Regions from separate parts of the Homo sapiens genome. Here region 2 is linked to region 1. The links come from fine-mapping of genetic effects on gene expression. A gene starts in region 1. The other region holds a variant in brackets. All regions are shown on one strand. Distances are from middle to middle. Region 1 holds the start of SCNN1G (sodium channel epithelial 1 subunit gamma). Region 2 overlaps SCNN1B (sodium channel epithelial 1 subunit beta).

Region 1 (16,593 bases):
ACAGGGTGGCTAAAGTCAAGAATAACTTTTTTTGGGGACAGGATCTCACTCTTGCCCAGGCTGGAGTGCAATGGCACAATCTCGGCTCACTGCAACCTCTGTCTCTCAGGCTGAAGTGATCCTCCTGCCTCAGCCTCCTAAGTAGGTGGGACGACAGGTGTGTGTCACCACACCTGGCTAATTTTTGTATTTTTAGTAGAGATGGGGTTTTGCCGTGTTGCCCAGGCTGGTCTTGTACTCCTGAGCTCAAGCAATCCAGCCACCTCAGCCTCCCAAAGTGCTAGGATTACAGGCATGAGCCACTGCACCCGGCCTAAAGTCAATAATAATTTAACTGTACATTTTAAAATAAAGAGTGTCATTGGATTGTTTGTAACTCAAATGATAAATGCTTGAAGGGATGGATATTCCATTATCCATGATGTGCTTATCTCACATTTCATGCCTGTATCAAAACATCTCATGTACCCCATAAATATATGCACATACTATGTACCAACAAAAATTAAAAATTACATAAAAATAAAGAAACCTATATCATAGATGTAAATTATTAGAAATATATATATATACTTAAAAGCAAAAAAAATTTAAACAGAAAATTGGCACTATGGAGAAAATAAAGCTGGACAGGGAAACTAAAGAAAATGTACATGGGGTTGAAATTTTAAATAGCGTGGTTATGAATAAATAGCAATGGTCCCTTGCTGGGAGAGTGACTCTTGAGCAAAGATCTGAGGGAGGTGAAATAGGGAGCCAGGCAAAAATCAGGAGGGAGAGCATTCCAGTCAGAGCAGAGCCAACTCCAAAGGCTTTCAGAAAGGAACGTGCCTGGATGAGTTTGCAAAACAGCAAGGAGGCCAGAGTGGCTAGAGAGAAATAAACACAGGGTGAATAGTAGGATTTGAGGTTTGAGTGGTACCGAGATAGGAACAGCACTGGGTGATCACAGGAGGATGGAAAAGCCCAAACAACAGCTCAAACAAGAACTAGGCAAAGAAACCACAGGATAACCGAAAACACAAAAGAAGGGAGAGAAAATGGCCAAAACCCTGGTCAGGATGACGTGTCCATGACTCTTCCAGGCAAACACGTAGGCAGTAATTGGGGTCCCTGAAATTTCCTCCTTTTGCAGAATACCTACTGATTATTCCAACCCCTAATTGAAGAGACACCCATAGAATTAGAAACCCAAACTCCATCGTGTGAGATTCGTTCTCCCAAGCATGCCCGCCCTTCTCTCTTAAGTGTGTGTTCCCACTTTGCAATAAAAGCTTCTTGCTTCATTCTGACTCATCCCTGAATTTTTTCTCCCGACAGTGTAAAGAATCTGGCCAGTGGCTAGGACTGAGGCCTCAGCGGCATCGGGAGACCTTCCTGAGCCTTCTGGCAACATTACTAAATCATGTAAGGCTCCAGGATAGACCATATGACAGGCCACAAAACAAGCCCAACCAAGTACATTTAAAAGATTGAAATCATGCAGTGCCAGAGGTCTCTAATGGGATGCCCATCTCCCATGAAATGCCATTCACAATGTTGAAATGAATACAGTAAGGAGGATGAAGGAGTGAAAGGGACATTGTCCAGCCAGCCTATTCAGTGTGTATAGATGAGTGATATCATGGTCAGATTACCTTTAGAACCGGACATGCACAATTTTTTTCTTTTTTTTTTTTTTTGAGATAGAGTCTAGCTCTGTCACCCAGGCTGGAGTGCAGTGACACCATCTCGGCTCACAGCAACCTCTGCCTCCTGGGTTCAAGCGATTCTCCTGCCTCAGGCTCCCAAGTAGCTGGGACTACAGGCACTCACCACCATGCCAGGTTAATTTTTGTAGTTTTAGTAGAGGTAGGGTTTCACCATATTGGTCAAGCTGGTCTCGCACTCCTGACCTCAGGTGATCTGCCTGTCTCAGCCTCCCAAAGTTCTGGGATTACTGGCATGAGCCACCACGCCTGGCCTATTCTTGCTGTTGTGGATAGCTATGTTCTATAAAGTTGCCACAAACACTGACTTAGTGAATACTGAACCATTCTTTCTTCTTCTTTTTTTTTTTTTTTTTTTTGGCAGGTTTCAAAAACTCGCTTTATTCCAATGTAAAATGAAGACATGATGGTTTAAAAACAAGAAAAGTTATTGATCAACTGTGAGGATGCTTTTGCTCACGTCCACCGCCTTTGAAACAACATGCCTGGACAGACCACACCCATAAGCAGCTCTCCGCAAAGACCCAGGCAGATGCCCCAGCCCCCTCCAGCTCACAAGGCAGCCAGCTACTCCTTCATCAGAGCTCCAACAGCAGGCACAGAGAAGCAGCACGGGCAGCGGGGAGGGGAAGCAGTGGGGCCTGTGGGGGCCCCCGCCACCCACAGAGCTAGTCTCTGTAGAAGGTGCTGTGTGGCAAGGACCAGGAAGGGAACTGCGCTACAGAGAGCTGACATCACTTCTGCATCTTTAACTTTCCCCAGGATCCAAGATTCAGCCCTGCTTCCCCCAGCCCCTCCCCAGCCCCACTGTGCATTAGGCAGCTCAGGTTAAAATGGGGAGAAGGTCAACCATTGCTTCTAGACAAAATACAGAGTTAGGTTTCCGAGAGCCTCTGGTCACAACATTTTCATCAACTGATCAATATGTAACTTTGCTTTATGTGTGTTTCTGTTTAAAGTCACCTTATTTAATATGTAGTTGATGCAATAACATTGACATCATGGCCAACATTACTATAATTCATGCCTTAATAAAGCCTGTCTAACATATGCCTTTCTCAGTAAGGCACATACAGTCTTGCTGTGCTTAGGAATACTAGATAGCACTTCGCACTACACTTGGGGGCCGTTGTACTCTAAGCACAATTTAGTGGAATTGTAAATCAGTGACAGAAAGAAATTTGGGAAATTCACAAATATGTGACAATTAAGACACTCCCAAATAAATATTGGATCAAAAAAGAAACCACCGGCTGGGCATGGTGGCTCATGCCTGTAATCCCAGCACTTTGGGAGGCTGAGGAGGGCAGATCATGAGGTCAGGAGTTCAAGACCAGCCTGGCCAACATAGTGAAATCCCATCTCTACTAAAAATACAAAAAATCAGTAGAGCGTGTTGGCAGAAGCCTGTAATCCCAGCTACTTGGGAGGCTGAGGTAGAATTGCTTGAACCTGGGAGATGGAAGTTGCAGTGAACAGAGATTGCATCATTGCACTCCAGCCTGGGTGACAGTGCAAGACTCTGTCTCAAAAAAAAAAAAATTAAAAAATTAAAAAATAAACCAACAGAGAAATTAGAAAATATTTTGAGGTGAGTAAAAATGACACAACATATAAAAATTAGAGGATGTAGCTTAAGCAGTTATTAGGGAGAAATTTACAGCTGTGAACACCTACATTAAAAAAGAAGAAAGATCTCAAATCAATAACCTAACTCTACACTCTCAGACTCAAGAAAAGGGAGAGTGAATGAAATCATGTAGGGCCTTATGGGCCATTGTAAGGACATCATCTTCCATAACCTCTGAGTATCTTTTGTGTTCTGAGACTTGGAGAAAAATCCAAAAGATGAAGAACAAACCCACGGGCTTAAAGAAAACTAAAAAAAAACCCAGTCAATTCTCATTATTCATGGATTTCATATTTCACTAGAATTTATTTGTAACCCTAAAATCAATACTTGCAATGCCTTTAGGGACATGTGCCAAGCAGCAAAAATTTTAGTCACCCACTGTGCTTGTTCCCAGCTGAGGTCAAATAAGGCAACACTCTACCCTCTTGTTTCAGCTCTTATACTGTAAACTCATGTCCTTTTTTGCAGCCTATATAGGCTGCCACAATTTTCACATTTTTGTTTTGTTGGTGAGTTTGCTCCCTAGCGCTGAAGTGCTATCTAATATTCCTAAGCACAGGAAGGCTGTATGTGCCTTACTGAAAAAATATATGTGTTAGGTAAGCTTTATTCAGGCATGAGTTATATAGTGCTGTTGGCCATTATTTCAATGTTATTGAATCAACTATATATTAAACAAGGTGACTTTAAACAAGAACACACATAAAACAAAGTTACGTATCGATCAGTTAATGACAACGTTGTGACCAGAGGCTCTCGGGAACCGAACTCTATATTTCTTCTAGAAGCAATGGTTCAGTATTCACTAATTCAGTGTTTGTGGCAGCTTTATAGAACATAGCTAGCCCAAATAGCAAGAATTGATTGTACATGTCCAGTTCTAAAGGTAATCTGACCATGATATCTCTCATCCACACAGACTGAATAGACTGGCTGGAGAATGCCCCTTTCACTCCTTCATCTATTCATTCCAAAATTGTGAATTGCATGTCATGGGCGATGAGGCTTCCACTGGAGACCTCCTGCATAAAAGGAGAAACTATGGCTGCTGTCCGCAGTGCTGATATCTAAAGCCAGCTTCTCTCAAGAGAAGCAGCATCAAAAAAATTGAAATCCACACAACTGAATCTGAGGACCCTGGTTCCTACTCCCCAAAGGTCAAAGACAGTAGGTTGCCCCAAAAGACTAAGTCATTAAGAATGCATGAAGAGAGAGCATTAATCCCATCTTGGTGGGGCAAGATAACATCCACAAGAACTGAGGGACATCATTCTAGATTTGTAGGAATCCTGGAAAGAGTCAAACTTGGGAGCAAGATTACTTATCTCCTCTGGATCCCACATTTAGCCAACCCTGTGCCACAGATGCCTAAGCCTTAGTAGCAGCTTAACCAAGTTTTCTAAGCCACTTTATATATCTTTATATCTCCTCTGACTCTATGGAAGTTTTGAGATCTCCTGCTATCTCTTGTGACTAGCCTCCTGAGACCCTGAACCCCAGCAGTGATCCTCTAAGGACCAGAAACTCTACAGAGGTATTGCAAAAACGTTCCAACGCTGGGCGTGGTGGCTCACGCAGCCCTTTGGGAGCAGCACTTTGGGAGGCCGAGGTGGGCGGATCACGAGGTCAGGAGTTCGAGACCAGCCCGACAAACATAGTGAAACCCCGTCTCTACTAAAATATATACAAAAAAATTAGCCGGGCGTGGTGGCACATGACTGTAATCCCACCTACTCAGGAGGTTGAGGCAGGAGAATCACTTGAACCTGGGAGGTGAGCTGAGATCGCACCACTGCACTCCACCCTGGGTGACAGAGTGAGATTCTGTCTCAAAACAAAAACAAAAACAAATGTTCCAAAGGAGTATAAATAGAATTTCAGGGAAAGCAATGCATTGGAGAAGCCAAGAGAAGAGAGTGTTTCACTGAGACAATTATCAGTTGCAAGTGCCAAAGAAGGCAACAGTAGAGAAATTATGCAATATGAGATGTTTTTGCAACCCAGAATTTATTCTGATTTTGCTTGGAAAGAACCACTTCTTCCCCATTCTCAGCCCTTGTGTTTTGAGTGAAGCTGAATCTACCCAGAGACAGAGCATATAATCCAAGCCTAAGCCAATCAATGCATCCCATTCTTCTAATCATGGTGTTCAACTGGAAGTTGAAACAGCCAGGCATGGTGACTTGCACCTTTAATCCCAGCTACTCAGAAGGCTTAAGCCCAGAAATTCAAGGCTGCAGTGAACTATGATTACACAACTGCCCTCCAGCCTGGGCAACAGAATAAGACCTCATCTCTAATAAGTAAAAAAAGAAGTTGAAACATGCCTCAAACAAGGCAATAAAGCTCAATCAAGATTGTCCTACAATATGTGCTTAAGCTATCAGTCCTTCTGGACTCAGCATTATGTATATGTAGAAGCTAGAGCTAGTGCAGCCATCTTGCAACAACACTGGACAGAGAATGGTGTGAACACTGATGAATTAGAACCAAGACTCAAAGGCAGAAAAACCAGGACCTGTTGACATCTTTTGAATTCAAGTGTAAGCTGAGCCTGAAGCCAGACTCCCTTATACATGAGCTAATTTGTTTCATTCTTTAGCCTAAGCTAGTTCACGGTTGTTTGATTCTGATATCTGCAATATATAGAGTTTTACCTGAATTAGAAATAAGTGCTGGATGCAGAATGTTTTGAGTGATGCATGATAAAATGTGGAATTTACAAGGGCCAAATCGATGGGGTATAGGGCAATAAAAGCCCCTCCGACACAGCTGGGAAGTTGTGCTTTCAATAAGCCCCCATCACCATGGGTAATCTGTGCATTCTCTTGACCCATAAAAAAGTCTAATTAGTAAAAGAATGTTTTTTCACTCTGAAAGGCCAAGGCAGGCGGATCACTTGAGCTCAGGAGTTCGAGACCAGTCTGGGCAACATGGCAAAATCCCATCTCTACAAAAAATACAAAAGTTAGCCAGGCACAGTGGCATGTGCCTGTAGTCCCAGCTACTTGGGAGGCTGAGGCAGGAGAATAGCTTGAACCCAGTGGGTGGAGGCTGCAGTGAGTCGACACTGTGCCACTGCGCTCCAGCCTGGGTGGCAGCAGTGAAACCCTGTCTCAAAAAAAAAAAAAGTCTCTTACACTAGAAAAATGGTACTAACTTTTGCCAGAAACATATGTGTACCCTTTGGGGAAAAAGGGTCCTAGAAAATTAATGTAACCAAGCTTATATTTCTCTATTTCAACAACTGATGCTATTGGCTTAAGCTAAGACTATACACAGAAATAGTATCCAGGTCATTGAATTAGAGTCCAATTAATAAATAAGAATGGTCTTCTACCATGCCACCACCCTCATCAGCCCAGCAAGAAAGACTTTCCTTGTCTTCAACAAGGAAGACCTTGTTGATTGCTTCTTAGAACCCTCCCATCCGACTACATAATATAAATGTGATCCTGGAAATGTGAGTCCCTTTGACCCCACACCTGACTCATATTAGCCTTAGGTCCTATGAAGATAATTTGGTAAACTTTGGGTCTTATTGAGATAGCTGGTTGGGCGCGGTGACTCACACCTGTAGTCCCAGCACTTTGGGAGGCTGAAGTAGGTGGATCACTTGAAGTCAGGAGTTCGAGACCAGCCTAGCCAACACAATGAAACCCCGTCTCTACTAAAAATACAAAAGAAATAGCCTGACATGTTGGAGCATGCCTATAATCCCAGCTACTCAGGAGGCTGAAGCACGATAATTACTTGAACCCAAGAGGCAGAGATTGCAGTGAACTGAGATCACGCCACTGCACTCCAGCCTGGGTGACAGAGACAACATCTAAAAAAAAAAAAAGAGAGAGAGAGCTAGGATCAAGGGGAGTCTATTTCCCTGTCAGAGTTCTAATTACCTGTTATCCCTTTAAATAGCTCAGGGCTCTCCCTGTTGTCATTTGGCATATAAAAATGTTGCCCAGATTTGTAGATATTCATCTGGGACTAGATATGAAATACACTCACTTTAAGAAACAGAAGAAGACATCACCACATCCAAGTGGGAAGATAGGATTTTTATTCTCTATATTAGTTGGGACTTTTTTGGTTTTGAGTGAGATAAACAACTCAAAATGTCCTAAACACAATAGCAAGTTTATTGGCTCATATGACTGAGAATTCCAGAAGGTAGACCCAGCTGTAGGCAGTGCTGGGTCCAGAGACTTGCTGGAACCCTCTCCATCACTGGGCTCTGCTTTTCTTTGTGTTGGTTTCACTCTAAGGCCCTATGTGATACTTTCCACAGCCCTTGGATCACACAGTCCTTTCTGCTAGAAGTCCCAGTAAAAAGAGACATCCTCCTTTGCAATATTCTAGACAAAGTCTTGGGTGGGTGTGACTCTCAGACTCTCATTGGATTGAATTTCTGTCTGTGCCCACTCCTGAGCAAAAGACTGTAACCTAAAGGCCAGGCATGGTGGCTCATGCCTGTAATTCCAGCAATTTAGGAGGCCAAAGTGGGTGGATCACCTGAAGTTAGGAGTTTGAGACCAGCCTGGCCAACATGGTGAAACCCTGTCTCTACTAAAAAAAAAAAAAAGAAAAAAAAGAAATTATCCGGGTGTGGTGGTGTGCACATGTAGTCCCAGCTACTTGGGAGGCTGAGGCAGGAGAATCACTTGAACCCAGGAGGCGGAGATTGCAGTGAGCCGAGATAGCACCACTGCATTGCAGCCTGGACGACAAAGCGAGATTCCATCTCAAAAAAAAAAAAAAAGACTATAACCTGAGTGACAAGATAAGCTGATTTGCTAGAGCCAGAGATGGGGGTCAACCTAAGTTGAACCACATGAATGAGGATGGGGGGTGTGGATAGGATTGAATGGTTCTCCAAAGGAAATTCAGGGATGTCTCTAGAATAAAAAGAATGGATATTGGCAGAAAAACAAGCAAATGGCTTCTACACCATTGCTCTCGACAAGCAAGTCTAAAATCTTAGTATTTAGGGGGCAATGTAAGTCTCATCTATATTGCTTTTTCCTAAGTGGACCAGAAGTGTTTTTTTGAAAACAAAGGGAAATGTTGGTTCACTTGTTTTAAGGTTTCTTCCTCACTTACAGCCACATGATCTGAGAATTTCCCATTTACCAGTAGTGGTGAATCTCTTCAGTCATATTTGTTTTACCCATTCCTACCCTCACAGTGTTAGCTGATTGGACCAGGAATGAATACACCTGAGCCAAAGAAACTAGCTCATTGGCAGGCCAGTGGCCAATCAAATTTATCTTCAGGACTCATGAGACTAAGACAGGCTTTGAAAATTCAAGAAAGCCCACAAAATCCTCTGCCAGGCGCACTGACTTACACCTGTAATCCCAGCACTTTGAGAGGCCAATGCGGGTGGACTGCTTGAGCCCAGGAGTTCGAAACCAGCCTGGGCAATATAGAAAGACCTCCATCTCTACAAAACCCACAAAATGTATCTGGGTGTGGCAGTGCATGCCTATGTTCCCAGCTACTCTGGAGGCTGAGGGGGAAGTATCACTTGGGCCCAGGAGGTGGAGGTTGCAGTGAGCCGAGATCGCACCACTGCACTCCAGCCTGGGTGACAAAGCCAGACCCTGTCTCAAGTAAAAATAAAAATAAAAAAAGACCACAAAATCCTCCTCCTGAGAGATCCAGACCTTTCCTGGTTCCCATTCTCCTGAGACCCTCTGTGTTTCTTTGGATTCTGTAAAGGAGCCCTGCCTGCATCCATTTAATAATTTATTGATTCTGCTTGAGCTAATTTGAGTCTGTTTCTGTTGCCTGAAACCAAATGACTTTGCTAAGGCTAGGTTCGGTCATAGTCATATGCAAGGATGGCACGGAGGCCAGTGAAGGTGAAGCAGAATATGCGAGTGTGAGTAGGAAGAGACGAGGGCAGAGGGACAACAGGGTCAGATGATGGAGGGCCTTGCAGATGACCATAAGGATTTTGGCTTTCATTATAAATGAAGCAAGAAGCCACTGAATGGGTTTAAATAGAGAAATGGCATGATCTAACCTTAATTCAATAAGAATCTCTTTGACTGGCTTATTGACAAGAGGCTGTGGAGGGCAGAATTAGCAAGATTAGTGAGGAGCCTATGGCAATGATTCGGGTGAGAGACAATGATCAATTAGAGCATGGTGGTGGCCCCAGAGGTGGGGAGAAGTAGATTCTAGGTATATTTTATAAATCTGAACACTGATGCTTCAAGAAGGAGAGGACGTTGCCTATGGTCTTATGATGACAGGAGTGGTTTAGAGGCAATACCACTCTGTACTGAAGAATCAGATGGTGTTGGTCATAGGAGTGTACACATTTACCAAAACTCCTTGACTTGTACATTTTGGGCCAGGTGCAGTGGCTCATGCCTGCAATCATAACACTTTGAGAGGCCAAGGCAGGCAAATTTCTTGAGGCCAGGAGTTCAAGACCAGCCTGGGCAACATAGTGAAATTCCATCTCCACAAAAATAAAAAATTAGCCAGGCATGGTGGCACAGACCTCTAGTCCTAGCTACTATTTTGTAATCTGAGGCAGGAGGATTGCTTGAGCCCAGGAGTTGGAGGCTGCAGTGAGCTATGATCACACCACTGCATTCCACCCTGGGTGACAGAGCAAAACCTTGCCTCAAAAACAAACAAACAAAAAAATTGTGCGTTTCACTGTATATAAATTTTAACTTGAATCTAGCCTAATTCCATGCCTATAATGCCAGCACTTTGGGAGGCTGAGATGGGTAGATCCCTTGAACTCGGGAGTTCAAGACCAGCCTTGCAAACATGGTGAAACCCCTTCTCTACCAAAAAAAAAAAAAAAAAAAAATTAGTTGGGTATCGGTGGCATGCACCTGGGGTCCCAGCTACTTGGGAGGCTGAGGTGGGAGGATCCTTGGAGCCACAGGAAGTTGAGACTGCAGTAAGCCATGATCATGCCACTACATTCCAGCCTGGGTGACAGAGCAAGACCCTGTCTCAAAATAAATAAATAAATAAATAATTTAAAAGACAAAAAGAAGAAAAAGCTGGCTTTATTTTGCAGTGAGAATATAACTGTGTATTGTCATTCAAAACAAACATAGAATTTGAACAGTGTGTGTTTCAAAATCCCATTATATATGTATGTGTATATATATAAAACTAATATGTGTGTGTGGACACACACACATACACACACACCAAATAATAACCAAACTGTTAGCCATGCTTATTTGGGGAGGGGGGGGCACAGTTTATTGTTTTAATTCTTTGCAATGAGCATATATTGTTAGAAGAAGCAGCTGAGATTTTTTAGAGGATTTTCTTTAAATTTCTCTCCAATAATGCTGGACCTGTTTCCATCCACCTGGGCAAACCGCCCTTGGACCAGCAACCAAGGCATCTCCTAGGAATTTGGAAATTCGGACTCTTAAGACCCACTCCACCCCTATCGAGTCAGAATCTGCATTTTAACAACATCCATAGGTGATTGTAACCACATTCAAATCTGAGAAGCTCTAGGTAAGAACAGATCCTTTCCTCTCTCTGGGCTTCAGTTTCTCCCCGGCACAAAGGGGCTGTGTCTCTATGGTCCCTCCCAATTGCAGTTTTCTAATCTCGTTTCTTGTAGTTATCTGAGTCCCTATAAAAAGGCAGCTGAAGCTAGGAAAGGTGGCTTACCTCTGTAATTCCAGCTATTTGAGACGCTGAAGTGGGAGGCTCGCTTGAGCCCAGTAGTTGGCAGCTACAGTGAGCTATGATTGCAGCACTGCACTCCAGCCAAGGTGACAGAGGCAGACCCTGTTAAAAAAAGAAAGAGAGAAATAGAGGAAAGAAAGAAAGAAAAAGAAAGAAAGAAAGAAAGAAAGGAAGAAAGAAAAAGGAGGGAGGGAGGGAGGAAGGAAGGAAGGGAGAGAGAGAAAGAAGAAAGAGGGAGGAAGGAAGGAAGGAAGGCAAGCAAGCAAGAAAGAGAAAGGAAGGAAGGAAGGAAGGAAGGAAGGAAGGAAGGAAGGAAGGAAGGAAGGAAGGTGGGCGGGCGGGAAGGCAGGCAGGCAGGCAAGGAAGGAAGGAGGAAAGAAAGGAAAGAAAGAGAGAAAGAGAAAGAAGGACAGGCCAGGCGCGGTGGCTCACACCTGTAATCCCAGCACTTTGGGAGGCCAAGACGCGTGGATCACCTGAGGTCAGTAGTTTGAGACCAGCCTGGCCAACATGGTGAAACCGCGTCTCTACTAAAAACACAAAAATTAATCCGGGCATGGTGGCGCGCGCCTGTAACCCCAGCTACTTGGGAGGCTGAGGCAGGAGAATTGCTTGAACCCGGGAGGCGGAGGTTGTAGTGAGCTGAGATAGCGTCATTGCACTCCAGACTGGGCGACAGAGCGAGACTCCGTCAAAAAAAAAAAAAAAGAAGGAAAGAGGAAAAGAAAGAAGAAGGAAGGAGGAAATAACGAAAGAAAGAGAAAGAAGCAGCTGAAAAGGTCAAAGGATGAGTGGCCTGGCTGAACAGCCCCTGCTGCCTACAGCCGGACGCTGGTGGGCACTGAAGCTGCAGGTCTGGAGGGAGTCCGAGGAGCGAGGCTGCGTGGGATTACTGCTGGTGCTAGGGCAGGCACCTGCCATCTGGACGGGAGTGGAAGGAAGTCGCGGGGCAGTAATAGGGGGCAGCAGGCGCTTTGAGGCGCCTTGGGGTAAGTGCCGCAGAGACCCAGCGGGAATGCAGGATGGCAGGGCGGCCTCGGGGCGGCAGCAGGCACTGCGCGGTGGCCCAGGAAGACGCAGCGCGGCCGGGCTGGGGCGCAGGGCGGCTTCGGGGCGCCAGGGGGCGTTGTGAAGTCGTGGCCCGCTCCGGGCGGTCTCAGGTGCCTGGCGGCCTGGGGAAAGCACCTGGGCAGGTGGGGGCGGGGCCTGGGGAGGCGGGTCCCTAGGGGGCGGGGCCTGGCCGGCCCACAAGAGCCCGCGGTGGCGCTGCCAGGGGATGCTAGCCCGAGAGCGAGCAGAGGAGCAGCGCACCCGCACGAGCCTTGGACCCTTTGGAACCGAAAGGTGAGTTCAGCCGGGTTGGGTCGGACCAGCTCGGGGGTTCTGGGCACTGGAGCGGATGCCGGGCGCCAGGGCGTCGGACGCCGTCAGCGCGGTGGGTGGCCGAGCCAGCATCAGCCGGTGGCGGCTTCCCGGTGCCCGGGATGCTGGGACACCTTGCCCGGGCGGTAGCGGCCAGCTCTCCCGGGTCTACCCACGCCGTGGCCCGGAGCACGAAGCCAGTCGAGAGCCACTCAGAGTCCGGGGGTCTGGGGGTCCCGGGCCACACCTGGCCTCTTTTCTCCGCCCAGCGCCTGTTCAGCCCCCTTCCCTGCCGGGGTGAGTCGCGTGGACCTGTCCGCTACTGTTCCTTCTACCCTCTGGAATGCTTTCTCCGGGGTGACTTGGTGCAGAAAGAAGCAAACACTTGAAGTGGGCTGGTTGGATTCGCTCCAGCGCCTTCAGCCGGCGCTCCCCCGGGGCAGACGTGGCTTCCGCCACAGGACAGCGCCCGCTCGCTCCGCGCAGGGAGGGCAGGGCTGCGGGGTCGCTCGGCAGGAGCTCGGGTCAGGGCCCTGAGGTTGAGTTCAAGTGATTTCTGCACAGGACTCGCCCTTCGGGACGGGCACTGATCGGGAACTCTCCGGTCCAGCGAACCCAACGCTAGACTTGGGGCAAATCTCTCATCCCTCTCCAAGCTTTGGGGTCCTGCACTGTGGGATGGGGGACAGGCAAAGTCGGTGGTAGGTGAGGAGGGGGTGCACGGAGCCGCTGCGATGAGCCAGGGCCCTGGAATTCTAAAGAATCCTTCAAATCCTTTCTACCTGTGTGGTCTTGGGCAAATTACCTAACCTCTGTGCCTCAGTTTCCTTCTCTGTGAAATGGGCCAAGTAATAGCACCTCATATAACTGTAGTGAGGATTAAATCAGGTAGTGTGTGAAAAGGACTGAGTGGGATGCCTGGGAGTACAGAAAGGGATCAATAAGTGATAGCTGCCATTATTGCTGCTTTCCCTGCTGCTGTTATTATTATTAATGATTGAAGAGCAGCCTAGTTAGTCGTTAAAGGGACTCCTAGGTGCAAATCCCAGCTCAGCCACTTTCTAGTGTGACCTTGGGCAAGCTACTTAACCTGTCAGCGTCTGTTTCATTTGTACAATGGAGGTGGTTGTGATACCTACCTCAGACGATTATCGTGAAAATTAAATGAGGTGACAGCTGCAAAGTACTTAGAAGAGTAAGTGCTGGGTATCAGCTAGTAATTCTTCCACCAAGGGTATCACATTGGCTCAGGCTGCATAATCTAATGGTAGCTACAGTCTTGTTTTGCTTTGAAGTTGAAATATTATTTATATGAATATTTTATCTGTTTTGCAAAGAGCAAGATCAGTTCCCTTCCTTCACTTGGGGGCTCCTCTGACATTGTCGACTGATCCATTGGGGTCAAGGTCGGTTCTGGGGAAGGGGCTGATGGGGCAGAGGTACCCCTGAGAGCTGGGGATAGGAGCTTCCAGAATCACAGCTTCTGTTGAACATTCACAGAGGAGGGCTGCAGTTTTATTTGACAAGCAATTGAACCTGGACCTAGATTTTAAAAACAAACTCTCGCTAATTTTTTTCTTTCTTTCCTTCTTCTTTATTTCATTTTTTATTTTTTTGGATTGTAGTGAGGGAGGAGGTAAGGATAGGCAATATTTTAAGTGATAAAAAAATAAATTATATTCCTCTTGCCCAGAGGCTACTAGCATCATTTTGATGGTGTTCTTCATCCCAGCAAAATCATATCAATCTATGGAGGGTTTAGAGCAGTTTGTCTGCTCTGGACATCTCACCTCCATGCCCAGCACTCCATTTCCTTTCCATCTGAGGCCTTAAACCCACTAGCATCATAAGCTTGGAAGCCTCCTAGCTTTGCCCCAGCTTCCAATTTTAGCCCATATTTCATGGGTTCAGGGTGGGAAAAAAAGACATAACTCTGCAGGTTCCGAATACTGCCTAAAAATCTTGATGGGGCACATCGAAGTCACAGACATGGGTCCTCTCTGGTCCTGGGGACCACCCTGTATGCCCTAGGATATGTCCTAATTTGCCTTTGTCACTGTAGAAGGCATAGGACGACACAGTTTTCATATATCCCCCACCCCCAATACTAGTGCTCACAAGTCTTGGGAAGTGGTCATGTGCACTGTTCAGAGTTTGGAAATTAAATAGCTGTGTTCCTTCTCTTTCCTCCTACCTTTAGTTCTTGGTATTGTTAATTAACTCCCTGCACCCAGCGTACTACCAGGCCCCTCAAAGGCGTATGCCATAGCGGTGAAGGCTGCAGGGTTCCATCCAGCTCCTCCACTAACCAGCTGCATCATCTTACACAAGATATTCAACCTCTCTGAGCCCATTTTTCTCCTCTGTAACATGGATATAATAATAGCATGCCTACTTCATGGAATTATTGAAACACAAAAGGAAATATATGTAGGCTATGTGTATATTTATAGAGAGAGACAAATTTACTTATGAGACTAATGAGACTATATATTATAAACATGAAATGAGTTTTTATGTAGTATATTAGTTCATTTCTAAAATTATTTCTCATTGTAAAGTTTGTATAGTTGAGATGCATCGTGCACATTGATGAATGTGATAATTTGCCTTCCAATACTGGTACTCTCCCCCAAAGCTGTTATTAAATCAAGGGCATTCTCTAAATTAATGGTATCTTAGAATCAAGGAAATATGGCACAATGCCTGGCAAACACTAAGTGGCCAATAGTTGCAGGTTATTGTTACATCAGGTGATCTAGAAACATTAAGAGCTTGACTGTAAAGAGAAGAAACAAAAGAGAAATCGTTTCACTTATAATAAAGCCTCAGAGAAAAGGCTGGGGAAAATGCAGCCAGGAACATGATCTAAGGTGGCTGCCGGGAAATTTTCTTGGCAGATTTCATCTGTCAGTTACAATCTGCCGAGCACTGCTCTGTGCCAGACACTGTGCTAGGAACCAGGGGGCATAATGAGATAGGAATGCTGCCCTTGAGGAAGGCGGGCTACTGGAGGTGATAAGGCACGGGTACCCCTGCCTGATAAGAGAGCTGATGGGGCTGCTTCCAGAGTTCCTGCCCAGGAACCCGGGGAAAGGTCCTGCAGCCTGTCCAGCCAGCGCTTCGCAGGTTGCACCTCACCCAGCCCCCGCACGGCTAGGCCTGGGGGCCGTAAGAGAAGTAGGCAGCTTCTCTGGCAGCTGTGGTGGCCAAAAACAAACGTCCCGTGGAAAAGGGGCCAAGGATTCAGAATGCAAAGTGCCTAAGCCACAGAGGAACAGAGGAAGGAGGTCTCTAAGGGCGCATGGACTGGTGTTTCCCAGACTGTGGTCTCCAGGGACACACTAGCCGGCTAGTGCCTGCCAGCTCACCTGCTTCTCTTCTTTGCCCCTCCAGCACGCCCGTCCTCAGAGTCCCGTCCTCAAAGTCCCATCCTCGCCATGGCACCCGGAGAGAAGATCAAAGCCAAAATCAAGAAGAATCTGCCCGTGACGGGCCCTCAGGCGCCGACCATTAAAGAGCTGATGCGGTGGTACTGCCTCAACACCAACACCCATGGCTGTCGCCGCATCGTGGTGTCCCGCGGCCGTCTGCGCCGCCTCCTCTGGATCGGGTTCACACTGACTGCCGTGGCCCTCATCCTCTGGCAGTGCGCCCTCCTCGTCTTCTCCTTCTATACTGTCTCAGTTTCCATCAAAGTCCACTTCCGGAAGCTGGATTTTCCTGCAGTCACCATCTGCAACATCAACCCCTACAAGTAAGAGGCATGAGCAGGGAAACGCGAGTAGGGAGCCAGGCCCCCCACAGAGGCCAAAGCCCCTCCCGAAAGTGACACACTGGCAGCCTGGAGGTCGATTCCAGCCTACAAATGTGCTTTCTAGAAATTTGAATTTGTTGCTAACGCTGGTAAACAGCCCCCTCCCCAGTTCTAAATCTGTATGTACCAAGTTTTCAGACCATCAGTGACTTGTTTTTTTTCTTTTCTTTTTCCTTTTTTGAGATGGAGTTTCGCTCTTGTTGCCCAGGCTGGGATGCAGTGGTGCGATCTCGGCTCACTGCAACCTCCACCTCCCAGGTTCTAACAATCCTCCCGAGTAGCTGGGACTACAGGGGTGTACCACAGCGCCAGGCTAATTTTTTTGTGTTTTTAGTAGAGACAGGATTTCACCATGCTTGGCCAGGCTGGTCTTGAACTCCTGACCT
Region 2 (8,000 bases), 180 kb after region 1:
GGGGTCTGGGGTTAGACCACCTAGACTCAAATCCTGGCTCCATCTTACAAGCTGTGTGACCTTGAACAAGTTTCTTAGCCTTGCTGTGCCTCAGTTTCCCTCCTCTGTAAAATAGGGGAGAGAACAATACCTACCCTACATGGTTACTTTGAATATTAAGTGAATTAATATGCATGAGTAACTGACCCTACTACTGGGCTTAATAAATAATAGTTATAACTATTACTTTTATAATAGTTTTATAACCCACATTTTAGGCTGGGCTCAGTGGCTCATGCCTATAATCCCAGCACTTTGGGAGGCCGAAGCTGGCAGATCGCTTGAGACCAGGGGTTCGAGACCAGCCTGGACAACAAGGCAAAACCCCATCTCTACTAAATATACAAAAATTAGCCAGGTGTGGTGGCGCATGCCTGTAATCCCGGCTACTCAGGTGACCGAGGCACGAGAATCACTTGAACCCGGAAGGCAGAGGTTGCAGTGAGCCGAGGTTGTGCCACTGCACTCCCGCCTGGGCGACAGGGGGAGACTCTCTTAAAAAACAGCAACAAAAACAAAAACCCCAATTTGACAAGGAATGCAAATTCAATAATTATGCCAACATTTACTGGGCCTTTCTCGTCCCTGTAGGTGTCAGGCACTATTCTAAGCACTTTGTGTGTTAAAATTGCTTTCACTCTGGCAACAAAGTCATGAGAAAGGAGCTGTTATTTTCCCCTTATTTTATTTTTTTAAGAGACAGGGTATCACTCTGTTGCCCAGGCTGGTCTCAAACTCCTGGCCTCGAGTGATCCTCCCACCTCAGCCTCCCAAAGTGCTGGAATTACAGGCATGAGCCACCGCGCCCAGCCTTCCCCATCATTTTATAGTTGCTGTAACCTGCCCAGAGAGGTTAAGTAACATCTCTGAAGTCACACAGTTGGTGAGTGGCAGAGCTAGCAGTCTGGGCCAGGCCCACCCCGCATCACTCTATTGCCTCATCAGAAAGGGTGATCGTCATCTTCCCTCCCTACCCACCTCTCCCAAGCCTATTTCCCCAGCCCTCGGCAGGTCCCAGTGAAAGGTACCATCCAGGCACCTTAGCATAGAGATCTCAGCCAACTGCTCTCTGAGCTCTTCCTCACTCCCACAGTTGACTGGTCATCTGCCTTCCTGAGTCAGCCTTGGACACAGCTGTGGGAATGTGCCTCTCTGCTCTCCCGGTGCTGGGCCACAGACACTGTGGCCCCTGCTTCCTCCCTCTCTCTCTGACTCCATCCTGTCCCCCTCCTAACATGACAAACACTCTAGAAGCAGCAGCTGCAGAATTAGGAAAATGTGAGCCGCATGTGGACCCCAACACCAAACTGCCTGGACTTGAATGTCAGCTCAGTATGTGACTGGGCATGCTACTTAGCCTTTCTGTGCCTCAGTTTCCTCACCTGGAAAGTGGGGACAGTGAAATAACCACATAGCATTATTGGGGGATTAAATGAGAACATATGCAAAGTACCTGGTGCAATGCCTGGCACATAGTAAACATTATAGGAGCATTTTTTTAAAAAGGCTTTTGGGCCGGGCATGGTGGCTCACGCCTATAATCCCAGCACTTTGGGAAGCCGAGGCAGGCAGATCACCTGAGGTCAGGAGTTTGAGACCAGCCTGGCAAACATAGTGAAACCCCATCTCTACTAAAAATACAAAAATTAGCTGGGTGCAGTGGCTCACGCCTATAATCCCAGCTACTCGGGAGGCTGAGGTAGGAGGCTGAACCCAGGAGGCAGAGGTTGCAGTGAGCTGAGATCATGCCACTGCACTCCAGCCTGGGAGAGAGAGCGAGACTCCATCTCAAAAAAATAAATAAATAAATAAATAAATAAACAAATAAATAAATAAATAAAAAGGCTTTTGGCCAGGTGCAGTGGCTCACTTAATCCCAGCACTTTGGGAGGCCAAGGAGGGAGAATCGCTTGAGGCCAGGAGTTTAAGACCAACCTGAGCAACATAGTGAGACCCCCCATCTCTACAAAAAACAATTTTAAAATAACAAAATTAGCCCGGCGTGGTGGTACACACCTGTAGACTCAGCTACTCTGGAGGCTGAGGGGGAAGGATCACTTGAGCCTCGGAGTTTGAGGCTGCAGTGAACCAAGATCACACCACTGCATTCCAGCATTCCAGCCTGGGTGACAGAGTGAGAGTAAAATATAGAGAGAGAGACTTTGTTGTTGGTGGTGGTGGTGGTTTTTTTTTTTTTTTTTTTTTTGAGACGGAGTTTTGTTCTTGCCCCCAGGCTGGAATACAATGGCATAATCTCCACTCACTGCAACCTCTGCCTCCCGGGTTCAAGTGATTATCGTGTCTCAGCCCCCCGAGTAGCTGGGATGACAGGCATGCACCACCACACCTGGCTAATTTTTGGTTTTTGGTTTTTGGTTTTTGGTTTTGTTTTGTTTTGTTTTTTTGAGACAGAGTCTCACTCTGTCGCCCAGGCTGGAGTACAGTGGCACTATCTCGGCTCACCACAAGCTCCGCCTCCCGGGTTCATACCATTCTCCTGCCTCAGCCTCCCGAGTAGCTGGGACTACAGGCAGCCGCCACCACAACCGGCTAATTTTTTGTATTTTTAGTAGAGACAGGGTTTCACTGTGTTAGCCAGGATGGTCTTGATCTCCTGACCTCATGATCCACCCGCCTCAGCCTTCCAAAGTGCTGGGATTACAGGCATGAGCCACTGTGCCCAGCGTAAATTTTGTATTTTTAGTAGAGACAGGGTTTCACCATGTTTGCCAGGCTGGTCTCAAACTTCTGACCTCAGGTTATCTGCTGCCATAGCCTCCCAAAGTGCTGGGATTACAGGCATGAGCCACTGCGCCTGGCCTAGAGAGACTTTTTATCGAGGAATAGTTTTAGATTTACAGAAAAACCACAGCCTCCAACTCCTGGACTCAAGTGATCCTCCCTCCTCAGCCTCCAAAAGTACTAGGATTACAGATGTGAGCCACTGTGCTGGCCTTTGCTCTGTACTTTGGAAAGGAGTCACTAAATTCAGACTACGCTCAGGGGAAGGGGAAGGGAGTGGCCAGTGGGAAAGGAGCATTGAGCTCCACCCCTCCTAGAGAGAAGAATATATATTATTTGGAATTCTTCTGTAAAGGAAGATTTGTCTCATCTCCTCCATTTATTTATTTATTCCATCATTTATTGACACAGTATGGACTCCTGTAGATTTAGGTTGTAATCCAATTCCTTGTTATCTATTCTCTTGCTTAAATTCTTCTAGCTTTGGCCACTCTGTCAGTTAGCACCTGTGTGCCTTTGATATGTCCTCACCTGGGTGGGTTTTTTAACTTTTGCCTACTTTCTGGCACTACAGGATGCCCCCGCCCTAGAATCAGCCATTTCTCTAAAGAGCTCTGTTTGGTTTTTTGGTTGTTTTGTTTGTTTGTTTGTTTTTGTTTTTGTTTTTTTTGAGATGGGATCTCACTCTGTTGTCCATACTGGAGTGCAGTGACACAATCGCGTGCCCGATTAATTTTTTTATTTTGTAGAGATGGGGTCTCCCTATGTTGCCCAAGCTGGTCTCAAACTCCTGGCTCAAGCAATCTTCCCACTTCAGCCCCCTAAAGTGCTGGGATTACAGGAGAGAGCCAACAAGACTTGCCCAAGCTCTGGTTTTTTAAATTGAAGAATGGTATTTAGAAACCAAGATCTGGGCCAAGCATGGTGGCTTATGTATGTAATCCCAGCACTTTGGGAGGCCGAGGTGGAAGGATTGCCTAAGCCCAGGAGTTTGACACCGGTCTGGCCAACATGGCAAAACCCCATCTCTACTAAAAATACAAAAATTAGCCGGGTGTGTTGGCATGCACCTGTAATCCCAGCTACTAGGGAGGCTGAGGCAGGAGAGTCACTTGAACCTGGGAGGCAGAGGTTGTATAGAGCCAAGATCATGCCACTGCACTCCAGCCTGAGCAATCTCAAAAAAAAAAAAAATAAAGTTAAATAAAATTTAAAAATAAAGAAACCAAGATCTGGGCATATATAAGCATTATTATTACTATGGTTGTTGTTGTTTCAGGGATTATCCAACTAGTTTCTGCCCTGGAAAGTCTTTCCTGACCTCTGACCACACAACAGTGGTTATACTGCTTCCTGCTAGGATGCTCTATTTCCCAGTCTTTTCTGGAGGCTCACTGGTCTCTGTCTGCATGCCTGGCTCCCAGCCCAGCAGAGATTTCTGTAGGGAAACACCTGGCTCTGGAATCAGAGGCAGCCAGTCCTGGGAGCAGCCTCTCTGGGTGAAGAGTATTATCAACAAGCAAATAGTTGGCACGCA[C/T]GTGGAGACCAAGAGCATGGCGCGGGCAGGAGGGGACCTGGCCACACCCCATGCAGCCTCCTGCTCCTGGGCTGCATCTGACCAAGACAGTTCCTTGGGAACACTGTGTCCCCATGCCCTGGGGCGAGGTCTCTCCTTCAAGAGCAGGGCCTGGATTGAGCTGGTTTGCTCTGCTCTGTTCTTTTCCTGTGGCCACAGCCCTGATCCCACAGTTTATAGACTCCATGGTGCCCGCCCAGAGCTATTTCTTCCCTCTGGGGCTTTGCCTGTGTTGTGTCCCTGCCTGGTGAGCCCTTTCTCCTCCCTACCCTGTAGACTTAGCCATCGCTTACTTGTTCATAAAGTCTCAGCTCAGGCCTCCCCTCCTCCAGGAAACCTTCCCTGACTCGCTCCCCACTCTCCACTGGGACTTGGGTGTCACTTCTCCATACTTATCTCTGTCGATGCTCTTATCGCCTATTGTAATTTATTCATCAAATATTTACTGAGTGTCTGTGTGCTCTGTACCAGACCCTGGGCATGGAGCTGTGAACAGTAGCAGCCAAGATTTTTTGAGTATTACAGTATGCTAGGCATCCACCCCTTGCCGCAGTCATGTAGGTAGTATTATCTGGTGTTACAAATGGGGAAAGTGAGGCACGAAGACGTGATGTAACCATCCCAAAGCTCACCAGCTGCTAAGGGACACAGCCAGAATTGAAATCAAGCAGGCTGGCTCTGTGGCCTGTGCTCTTGACCTCTGAGCTCTTCTCCTTCCAGACAGACAAGGTCATGCTCCCTCCCCGGGCTTATGTTCTAAGCAGGAGACAGCTAAGTGAGCAATTAAATCAAGAAGATAATTTCAGGCCAGGCACAGTGGTGGATGCCTATAATCCCAGCATTTAGGGAGGCTGAGGCCAGAAGATCACTTGAGGCCAGGAGTTCAAGACCAGCCTGGGCAACATAGCAAGACCCCATCTCCACAAAAAATTTTACAAATTAGCTGGGTGTGGTGGCACATGCCTGTAGTCCCAGCTACTCAGGAGGCTGAGGCAGGAGAATATCTTAAGGCCAGGAGTTTGAGGCTGCAGTAAGCTATGATCACGCCATTGCACTCCAGCCTGGGCAACAGAGTGACACCCTGTCTCTACCAAAAAAAAAAAGGAAGCTGATTTCAGATTCTGATGTATCTGATAAAGAAGATAATCAACTGGTTGAAGGGCCAGGTGCAGTGACTCACCCTGTAATCCTAGCACTTTGGGAGGCCAAGGCAGGTGGATCACCTGAGGTCAGGAGTTCAAGACCAGCCTGACTAACATGGTGAAACCCTGTCTCTACTAATAATACAAAAATTAGCCAGGCGTGGTGGCGCATACCTGTAATCCCAGCTACTCAGGAGGCTGAGGCAGGAGAATCACTTGAACGGGGAGGCAGAGGCTGTAGTGAGCTGAGATCATGCCACTACACTCCAGCCTGGGCAACAAGAGTGAAACTCCATCTCAAAATAAATAAATAAATAAATATAAATAAACTGGTGGAAAAGATCTAGAGTAACTAGGTAGAAAATTCTATTACTATTAGTAATAAAGTACTATTAACTAATAGTTCTAGTCCATCACTTTGCATAGGGGTTCAGGGAGGCCTCAGAGCAGATAAAAGCTGAAGGATGGGGAGAAGCCAGTATCTGAAGAGCTGGTTAGAGAATATTCCAGGCACAAAGGACAACAGAGGCAAAAGCCTTGAGCTTGGAAACATCTAGAGTGTCGCTGGAGTGTAGGGAATGAGACATAGAAGGCCAGCATAGGGACTTTGCACTTTATTCTGTGAGTGACAAGAAGCCTTTGGAGGGTTCTCAGAAAGGGAGTACCGTGCTCTGACTCACAAATTTAAACAATCACCCTGACTGCTGTGCAGAAGGAAGACTTTAAGGATGAACAGAGGCAGAGGCTCCAGCAAGAATCCAGACATGAGATGCTGGTGACTTGGGCCAGGGTGGGAGCGTCTGAGGTGGAGACAGGTGGACAGACTAAAGTCACATCTTGGAGCCTGGCGTGGTGGCTCACACATGTAATCTCAGCACTTTGGGAGGCTGAGGTGGGAGATCACCTGAGGTCAGGAGTTCAAGACCAGCCTGGCCAACATAGTGAAACACCATCTCTACTAAAAATACAAAAATTAGGCCAGGCATGGTGGCTCACGCCTGTAATCCTAGCACTTTGGGAGGCTGAGGTGGGTGGATTGCCTGAGGTCAGGAGTTCGAGACCAGCCTGGCCAACATGGTGAAACCCCATATCTACTGAAAATACAAAAATTAGCTGGTTGTGGTGGCAGGCACCTATAATCCCAGCTACTCGGGAGGCTGAGGCAGGAGAATCGCTTGAACACAGAGGGCAGAGGTTGCAGTGAGCTGAGATGGCACCACTTCACTCCAGCCTGGGGTGAAAGAGCAAAACTCCATCTCAAAAACAAAAAAAAAAATAGTTGGGCGTGATGGTGCCTGCCTGTAATCCCAGCTACTCAGGAGGCTGAGGCAGGAGAATTGCTTGAATCCAGGAGGCAGAGGTTACAGTGAACCAATATCACGCCATTGCACTCCAGCCTGGGCAACAGAGCAAGACTTTGTCAAGAAAGAGAGAAAGAGAGAAAAAGAGAGAAAGAGAGAAAAAGGGAGGAAGGGAGGAAAAGAAAAGAGAGAAAGAGAGAAAGGGAAGAAGGGAGGAAGGAAGGAAAAGGAAAGAAAAGAGAGAAAGAAAGAGAAAGAAAGGAAGGAAGAAAGAAAGAAAGAGAAGGAGAAAGAGAAAGAAAAGAGAGAAAGAAAAAGAAGAAAAGAAAGAAAAAGAAAGAAAGAAAAGAAAAAGAGAGAAAGAGAGAAGGAAAGAGAAAGAAGGAAAGAGAAAGAAAGAAAGAAAGAAAGAAAGAAAGAGAAAGAAAGAAAGAAAGAAAGAAAGAAAGAAAAAAGAAAGAAGTCACATCTTGGAAGGAGAGGGGGGTTGATAGGATTCCACTCTCTGTCCTCTGCCACACTGGAAGCTGCAAAAGGCAGCCCTGTCTTGTTTTGCTCAGTGTCCCTAGCCTAGCACCCACCTCAACAAACATTTATTGGGTGGAAAAATGTGGTTTCTTCCTGCTTCCCCTTGCACCGTTGAGGAAACCCAAGCTCAGAGGTTGAGTAAGCAGCTCAAATCTGTTGACAGTGGCAGAGCTTGGGTCGGCCCCCATATCCCATTTCACAGCCTGTCCTGGACCCAAGTCATTCTGCAAGTCAACTAGCTGAGACAAAAGATACAGGAAATGGCTTTCTTATCTGAAAACACGGGAAAATAACACCTGCCCTTGTGGGGTTATTTTGAGAATTAAATGAGATCACGAATACAGAAAGATTCAGCACAGGCCTGGCCCATAAAAGTCACTCAGTGAATGTTTGCTGTGGAGCATAAGGCTTCAAAGACAATACTGCATGGCAGGTGACGTTTTATGTGTGTGCATTATTTGATGTACTTACTCTCATTCCTTCCTGTTTTTATTTTTAATTTTTTACAAATTATTATTGTTTTTTTGATACAGAGTCTCACTCTGTTGCCCAGGCAGGAGTACAGTGGTGCAATCACAGCTCACTACAGCCTCAACCTCCCCAGGCTCAGGTGATCAATCCACATCAGCCTCCCAAGTAGCTGGGACTACAGACACTCACCACTACTCCTGG

The links. PIP is the estimated chance that this variant, and not a neighbour inherited with it, causes the effect.
Region 2: its variant is the best candidate, but not a certain one, in a credible set for the expression of SCNN1G in lung (TOPMed, PIP 0.87).

Annotation. Positions count from the first base shown.
Region 1 is chr16:23,170,442-23,187,034 of GRCh38, forward strand. SCNN1G (sodium channel epithelial 1 subunit gamma) reads left to right here and starts at 12,304. Exons shown (of 13, transcript NM_001039.4): 1 at 12,304-12,372; 2 at 15,787-16,147. The coding sequence starts at 15,831. RefSeq lists enhancers at 1,787-2,288, 15,311-15,812, 15,813-16,312 and a silencer at 12,026-12,275.
Region 2 is chr16:23,358,369-23,366,368 of GRCh38, forward strand. All of the region lies in intron 4 of SCNN1B (sodium channel epithelial 1 subunit beta), which reads left to right. Among named protein-coding and RNA genes, the nearest start is that of SCNN1B, 60 kb to the left of the region's middle. RefSeq lists a silencer at 7,300-7,594 and an enhancer at 7,458-7,517. The variant C/T (reference allele first, on the strand shown) is at 4,319.